Regions from separate parts of the Homo sapiens genome. Here region 1 is linked to region 2. The links come from fine-mapping of genetic effects on gene expression. Tissue or cell type: whole blood. Region 2 holds a variant in brackets; the other region holds the start of a gene. All regions are shown on one strand. Distances are between the middles of the regions. Region 1 holds the start of ANG (angiogenin). Region 2 overlaps LOC124903282 (a long non-coding RNA gene).

What was found.
Region 1: ANG starts here. The variant in region 2 is fine-mapped to the expression of ANG in whole blood (TOPMed, PIP 0.95).

Annotation. Positions count from the first base shown.
Region 1 is chr14:20,686,104-20,690,336 of GRCh38, reverse strand. It overlaps ANG (angiogenin), which reads right to left and starts at 1,573. Exons shown (of 2, transcript NM_001097577.3): 1 at 1,463-1,573. All of the region lies in intron 1 of RNASE4 (ribonuclease A family member 4), which reads right to left.
Region 2 is chr14:20,708,888-20,713,120 of GRCh38, reverse strand. LOC124903282 (a long non-coding RNA gene) reads left to right here. Exons shown (of 2, transcript XR_007064061.1): 1 at 1-40; 2 at 1,403-3,328. Among named protein-coding and RNA genes, the nearest start is that of EGILA, 4.1 kb to the right of the region's middle. The variant A/G (reference allele first, on the strand shown) is at 2,267.

The DNA.
Region 1 (4,233 bases), 23 kb after region 2:
TTCTGTACCCAAACACGTAACTGTCTGTCAGCTTTTTGTCAGTGGAATTAGTCCCAGCTGTTCTCTGTCCTTTTTTTCTTTTCTTTTCTTTTTTTTTTTTTTTTTTTTTTTTTTTGAGACGGAGTCTCGCTCTGTCGCCCAGGCCGGACTGCGGACTGCAGTGGCGCAATCTCGGCTCACTGCAAGCTCCGCCTCCCGGGTTCACGCCATTCTCCTGCCTCAGCCTCCCGAGTAGCTGGGACTACAGGCGCCCGCCACCGCGCCCGGCTAATTTTTTGTATTTTTAGTAGAGACGGGGTTTCACCTTGTTAGCCAGGATGGTCTCGATCTCCTGACCTCATGATCCACCCGCCTCGGCCTCCCAAAGTGCTGGGATTACAGGCGTGAGCCACCGCGCCCGGCCTGTTTTTTTTTTTTTTTTGAGACAGAGTCTTGTTCTATCGCCCAGGCTAGATCGCAGTGGTGCTATCTTGGCTCACTGCAACCTCCACCTCCCAGGTTCAGGCAATTCTCCTGCCTCAGCCTCCCAAGTAGCTGGGATTACAGGCGGCCACCACCACGCTTGGCTAATTTTGTGTATTTGGTAGAGACGGGGTTTCGCCATGTCGGCCAGGCTGGTCTCGAACTCCTGACCTCAGTTGATCCGGCTACCTCGGCTTCCCAAAGTGCGGGGATTACAGGTGTGAGCCACCACACCTGGCCCCAACTGTTCTTTAGAGTAACTTTATCTTCTGTATCAAATGAATCTGTTAGTATTCACAAGAATTATTCTCTCCCTCTCCCCACAGGCAATGTTCAGTATTCAAAAGATTCATCAAATTTTACACACCAGGGAGTTAACTTGACAGTTTATGATGAGTAACTATAGTTATCATTTTCATCAATGTGGCTTCACACTTTTATACATCCTAGGGCAAAATCCCCCAAAGTAAGAGCCTAACACCCAAGGCATATTCATCCCTTTATTGCTTTTCCTTCCTTCTTCCCTTCAACCTGCCAGTGAGCCTTCTTTTGATCTTGGGATGTGTTCCACTTTGTTTGAAAGAGCATCCAAAACTTTTCTAAGAAGAGAAATTAGCAGGGAAGGTTAGAAGGAAACAATGCTAAAAACATACTGTTTCTTTCCTTGTTAAGCCACGTGTAATGCCTGTAACAGGGGTGGACGACGGGGGAGGACTCCCGATGGCCTTCAGCAAATGGCTCCCCCAGGCCTTTGGGGATTTTATCACAATTTAGAAATCCCTCCTAAACTTCCACTTCCTCCCAGTCTCACTAATTTCTCTTTATCCACACATAGGCCATCCCAAAAGAAACCTGTTTTCATTTTAAACTTTAGAATCTGATCCATTTTCTTTTTAATTCATGAGCTTGAGCCTGGAGGCTTTAAAGGGAGGAAAATGGTTTCATTAAAATGGATGGATGGCTAGAAATAATATATAAAACAAATTGAACAATAGTTTACCCAGGAGGAAGAATCTTACAAAAATCTGGCAGTTTCCCTTCAACGGGAGATGGGTTCCAGCTGTTTGTTCCTGGAGATGGGTTCCAGTTGTGTGAACCTGGAGGCCTCTCCAGGTTCTGATTATATAGTGTTCCTAATATATAGTGTCCCAGTCCTGGCAGGGACATGAAAACCAAGGACACTGCTCTTGAACAAACGAGGAGGGTCATTCACCTTTTCGCTGGGCATGATTGGGTTAGATATTAACCCACCTGAATGGATTAGAGATTTGTTCTGGAAGACAAAGTTTGAGAAACATGGCCTTCTGTCCAAAAGTTGCCCTTTTCTGCTGTCTGTGGTGCTTACTCTTGTTCATGGCAGGACTGAGGTTTCCCTATTCACACATAATAGTCTGGATCCATAAGATAGCATCTCTGATCTCCCTGGGCCAACTCCAAGAACTGCCTTGGAAGATGTCACAGAGTAAGATATGGTCTTCCAGTAGGATGCTTTTCCACTGTACTATTTATCATTTATCATATCACATCCTATTTATCGTATCACATCATTTGGTTTCATGAACGGATGCTAAGCACGTTATTCCATCGATTTCATACAGCCAGGAAAGCACTTCCAGAGAAGGTTGTGTGACAGCTATTAGTACACTGCCCCTCCCCCTACACTCAACTTCTCAGCTTCTAACCCCCAGAAGCAGGCTTGCCATGTTTCCTGGGTTTCTCCTTCTTCCATCTTTACCTGTCCACAAGAGACTAACCCTGAACATTCAATCTTCTGATCCTTGTAATGTAGTTGCAAAATTGCTTATCTCCATCATCAAAGCAGGGCTGTAGATCCATTGCTTGCGTAAAAACAGTGGGCCAAAGGTCACCAGGATCACCTTATAGATCTCATAGTTTCCAATATCAGACAGCAGCAGGGTACCAACTGTTTCACAGACCCCCAGCATTTGCCCACAGTGGTGTTGGATCTAGGACAGTGTTATCTTTTTAAAAATCCTCAATCCTCTGTTGTCACCCACCTAGCTGCCAAGTATTCAGTCTGGCTGCACTTGAGAAGGTGTCAAGAAAAGACAGGCTGCCTGCTAGTAAAACAAATGCACTTGAAATCACAATAATTATAATATTCAGTGCAATCTTTCATTTTGTGAAGCTCTCACATACATGACTACATTCAACCAACACCAGGACTGTGTGAGGTAGGCATTATGTAAATATGCTCTGCTCATGAGGAAACTCCAAGAACAAACAGCAGATGAATGGTGGAGTCAGACTTTGAACCCTTCATAAGCAAGGAGAAAACTGACCTGTCTTTCCAGGCTTAGCTCAAGCAACACCACCTCTGAGTCCCGAAAAGCGGTACCCTGCCACAGCATACAACCCATATGCGCCTGCACACACACAGCCCCATGGCCTGAAGCACCAATTCAAGCACCGACTCACACAAACAGAGCAGCCTCTGATTTTAGAGTTCTGCAGTAGTGCTGAGGTGGGGCAACCAGCAGCCTCTGAATATAGTTAGGTCCCTTCTCTGCCTCTGGGCCTTCACTGGACAACCTTTGGAGGATACACAATCTGCCCACAATGCAAAAAGACAGTTTTATGTTTTTCTTTTAAACTTGGCACAAGGAAGTTTTGTTGAAATGAAAAGTAGGGTTTGGGGGAAAAATTACTATTTCATTAGAATGCATCTAAGCACTTAGTCATTTGTGTTTAAAATACAACAAGGAATTATATTCTATGATTAAGGAACATCACATCTTTGTCAGTAATTTTAATACAAATGAAGGAATCGCCAATTGCAAAAAACCTCATATATTTTTTAAATGTTCAGACAGCTTTAACTTGAAAGTCATTCCCCTTTCCTGGAGATTTTTTTCTCTCTCTCCCTCAAGCCAATAATGTCCCTGCACACAGACACGGGATGCACGGGTCCTGTTTCCAAGGACCCTAGTGTTAGAGCACTTTCCTCCTTCATACAGAGTATATATGTATCATTCTGTCTTAGGACTAATTATAAAATTAGATGATGGGAAGAATGGACTAAATAATTTCTATATTTCTTTATTATTCTAACACTTTAGGTCTATAAGCATGAACTTATTCAATAACGGAAGTAACAGGTAAAGAAGGAAAAGCACACGTGGCAAGAAGAACCACGTCTCCAGGAAGAGGCAACACTACTGATTGAAGGACAGTGGGGACAAAGTCCTGCTGACATGCCTGTATTTCCAAACAAAGACAAAAATTAAACATTTGCTTTTCAACCAACTCTGGGCTTTGTGCCCACTCACTCTTTGTTCCCATTCCCTCTTTCCCAAGTATTTCATGGCATTCTTCCGGGAATAACTGTTTACAGAGAATTACAGAGAATCTGCTTAAATACAGATTCAATAAAAACTCCTAAAGAAAGGTTTCACTGACCTTCATTGGTCCACTTTTTTATCCAGCTACTTTAATTTGAGTCACAGTGACCAATGCTTCCAACAATAACTTGACAAACCTCTTACTCTTGCCTGCTTATAACCTGATTATCTGTTTTCAACAATAGCTAAAGCCATTCCTCTTTTCCTGGAATGATTTTTTCCATCCTCTCTGCCAAACGATAGTTCATCTCCACATTACTAGAGTGCCTCATGTCCTGTTACTAACATCGTACCACTCCATGGAGTCATAGAACAAGAGTGGGAGGGGCCTCTGAGACTCTGTCCACCCCTCATATTAAAGAAGAGCCAACTGAGGAACAGAGAAAGAGACATGTATTGCCCAAGGAAC
Region 2 (4,233 bases):
GGAAGAAAAAGAATGCCTCCTGCCAGCAATCTGTGAGCAAGTAAGTAGTCATGAGGGCAGATGGGACCACAGGTAGTGCTGAAAATACACAGCCTGTGTGCACAGAAATAAATGAAGGGGCTAAGGTATTCCCCAAACACAGTGCCCTCTAAAAAGAGAGGCTTTAGAGGGGATACAACCTATATTACAGAAGTTTCTAAAAAATGGACAAATATGTCCTTACAGATCTCCATACAATGCCCCTATCCTGACTGTTAAAAACCCACACTCAAATGAATATTGATTTGTACAAGATTTGGGAACCATTAATGACATTGTTCAAGACATTCACCCAACTATGCCCATCCTTTACACCTTACTAACTGATAAACCAGGGCAGTATGGGTAGTTTTCGGTATTAGACTTAAAAGATACTTTTTTTTTTTTTTTTTTTTTTGCATCCTGATTGAAGAGAGGGACCAGATGCTGTTCACCTTTGAGTGGCAAGACCTGGAAACAAAAAACACCTTCCAATATTGTTAGGCTGTATTTTCTTAAGGTTTTAAAAACTCACCCACCATCTTTGGCAAAATATTGGCAAAGGGCTTCAGAGATTTTCAACTAGATGATGGGGTTCTGCTAAAATACTTGGATGACTTGTTAATCGCAAGCCAAGACTATGAGAGGTGCCTATCTAACACTATCTTAATCTTAAATTATTTGATATAATACGGACGTAACATATCACCTCAGAAAACTCAGATTTGTAAACAAGAAGTGACCTATCTTGGCTTCTGACTAAAAACAAGGAAAGCAGAGCTTGATGTCCAACCAGAAACAGGTGATAGCAGCAATAAAGGCCCCTGGGAATGGAAGACACTGTGGGGGGTTTTAGGTGTGGCAGGTTTCTGCTGAATCTGAATCCCTAATTTTGGACTCATAGTCAAACCTCTCTACAAGGCTCTAAAGGGATTAGATTCAGGAGCCCTAAACTGGATGGCTGAATGCCTTCAGGCATTTGATACCATCAAAAAAAAAAAAAAAAATAGTGTCAGCTCCAGCATTAGGACTGCCCAATTCTTGAAAGCTATTTAGACTCTATATCCATGAAAACCAGGGCACAGGACAGGAAATACTAATTCAACTACGTGGGAATTCCCCACAACCCATAGCCTACTTTCCCAAACAACTGGAGCAGATTACCAGAGGATGGCCACCTTGTCTTCAGGCCGTGGCAGCTACGTGTGATATCTTACAGGAAGCAGAAAAATTCACCCTAGGACAGCCCATTACTGCATTTGTGCCTTATCAAGTGTTAACCTTATTGTAACAAAAGGGAGGTTACTGGATGATAGCGGGGCATATGGGCAAATACCAAGCCAGCCTATTAGATAACAGAAATGTTTTCTCCAAACCACCACAGTCTTGAATCCTGCCACCTTGCTCCCAGCCACTGAGTCCAACTATGAACTGGAGCATAATTGTTTAGAAATTCTTGATGCAGTCTATTCCAGCAGACCAGATCTGTCAGATCATCTGATGGCCACTCCGGACTGGGAGCTATACACTGACTGAAGCAGTTTCACAGAAGGAGGACAACGCCAGGCCAGGTATGCTCCAGTGACCCTAGACAAAGTAGTAGAAGCCTATGTCCCCGCTGCTGGTACTTCAGCACAAAAAGCTGAATGGATTGCTCTCATCAGGGCCTTAAAACAGTCTCAAGAGAAATGGGTAAACATTTACACCTACTCCAAGTATGCCTTCTTGGTAGTGTATGCCCGTGGGGTCATTCAGAAAGAAAGGGGATTCTTAACCTCAAGAAATAAAGACATTAAACACCTGCTGGAAATTTTAGCTTTGTCAGAGGCAGTTGTTCTGCCAACTCAAGTTGCTATTATGCACTGCCAAGGCCACCAAAAGGATGACTCCCCAATAACCAAAGGGAATCAAGTGGCTGATAAAGCTGCAAAGCAGGCCACTCAAGAAACATATTTACTTGGGACCTTAATACTCCATTTAAACTTGTCAGAATTTAAACTCCACTACACTGAATGAAATGAAGAATGCACACATGAGTGGACATTGACCAACACAGACCCTTGTTCCTCATGGAAAGCTAACACTCATGGGATATTACTCTCTGAGGCCCTGGTATACCCAGTCCTGAAAGACCTGCATGAGGGGACACACTATGGCAGAGATGGACTGGCTCACCTGGTGTAGCCATATCTCAAAGGGCCACACCTTCAAAAGATCATTCAAAAGATTATACAAGCATGTTATCTAT[A/G]TACCCCAAATGATTCAAGAACTGCATGCAACTCTTCCCAGAGGAGGATACAATACAAAGGAATATGACCATTCGAGGACTGGCAGGTTGATTTCACCCAGATGCCAAAAACACTGGGATTTATAAGTACCTACTAGTGTTTGTAGACACATTTTCTGGAAAGGTTGAAGCTTACCCGAGCAAGAGATTGAAGCCTATCCGAACAAGTCTGAGAAAGCTGCAGAAGTAGCTAAGGCTCTGCTAAAAGAAATCATTCCTCGATTTGGACTTCCTTACTCCATACCAAGCAACAATAATCCTTCTTTAATTTCTGAGATCACACAAAGGATAAGCCAAGCATTACAGATCAAATGGAAATGACACTCTTGTTGGAGGCCACAATCAACTGGAAAGACTGAAAAGATGATCCACATGCTAAAAAACAAAAACAAAAACAAAAACAAAACAAAACAAACAAACAAAAAAACCAAAAAAAACCCCTGGCAAAACTCTATCGGGAAACAGATTTAAAATGGTAAAGGGTTTTACCTATTGCCCTGCTATGGATTGGGGTAGCACCCTGAAGTGGGCTTAAATTAAGCCTTTTTGAAATTGTGTGTGGGAGACCCTTCTGAAGTTCTTGGCCAGGGACCCCACCCTTGGACTTAATAAATTAATCAAGAATTAAACAATATGTACAACAACTAAGACATAAATCACTAACCCTGCACAAGTTTGTTCTTTTTGTTCTTTCCAGTTTTATGTGTCTTACAAAAAAGCCCCTTCACCCTTTTCATCCAAGGATAAAGTGCCGCTAAAATCTTGGTAAAAACAAGGACTGGACCAACAACAGCCAGCCAAAAAGTGGACAGGTCATTATGATGTTTTATTAACTACTCATTCATCTGTTAAGCTGGCTGGAGTCAAACCACGCATACATCACATTTCGGTAAAAATCGCCCCTCCCCAACCTGACACAGCAGACAATCAACCTGGTTGGACTTGTGAGCCAACTGGAGAACTGAAGCTACTGCTTAAGAAAAATCTTTTTGTACTATAGGATTAAATTTCTGTTATTCTTTATCATAATGAGTAAACTTTTTTGACATCTGCTAAAACTAGTCTATTTCTACAGTGGGCATAACATTATGCAGATAGTCTACACTAAGATGCTTGCTGGGTATGTGGATTGCTACCCATCTCTAGCACTTCTGGGCTACTTTAGTGAGTATCACCCCTGCAGGGGACTGATTAGATACATTTACAAACGTATATGAAAAACTGTTCATGGGAAAATCAGGACCTTGGTAACTTAAGGTAATATTTTTTAAAAATGGCCTGGCATTAATATAACGCTTCAGAATCCAGATCCTGGAAAACTCTTCATTATAACCGGACTATCCAAAGGACCTCTGAGTATGCAATCCCTCTCTTAAAGGAGTTTTCCTAGATGGCCCCCAAGATTTTGGCTACTAATAACCATTACACGGTAGGTGAGTTTTTATCAAATTTGGGACGATTACCTCTGGATGATCTCCACTATTAGTCACTTAACCCAAATTGCCACTTCATGTTGGGAACAAAGGAATCACTCTTAGAATCATTGGCCGAATGTTACTAAAAATGTGGATAGGATGCCTCTACATCAATATGAACATTCTTTAGTGCTATATTAGACAAACCTGTTTACCACTGATTGGACACAGACCCAAAATTTGGTGGCTGGTCCCCAGTGGAACTCAATAGTTATGTGAAACTAATCTTCGGCCATGTCTACCTGATGGATGGATAGGGCAGTGCACGTTAGGACCCCCATAGGTCCGGGGCTGATTAACAAAAACCACCAGGCAGCCTGCACACTTTCCAGATGTGTTACACCAATGGACCAGGCCGGTTTTCCCTTCCTACGACCATCTCCTGTCCCTTGTTTTCCCCCAAGCAGGCTTAGAAAGCATCATCTGGCATATTGAGGCACTTACAAATTATAG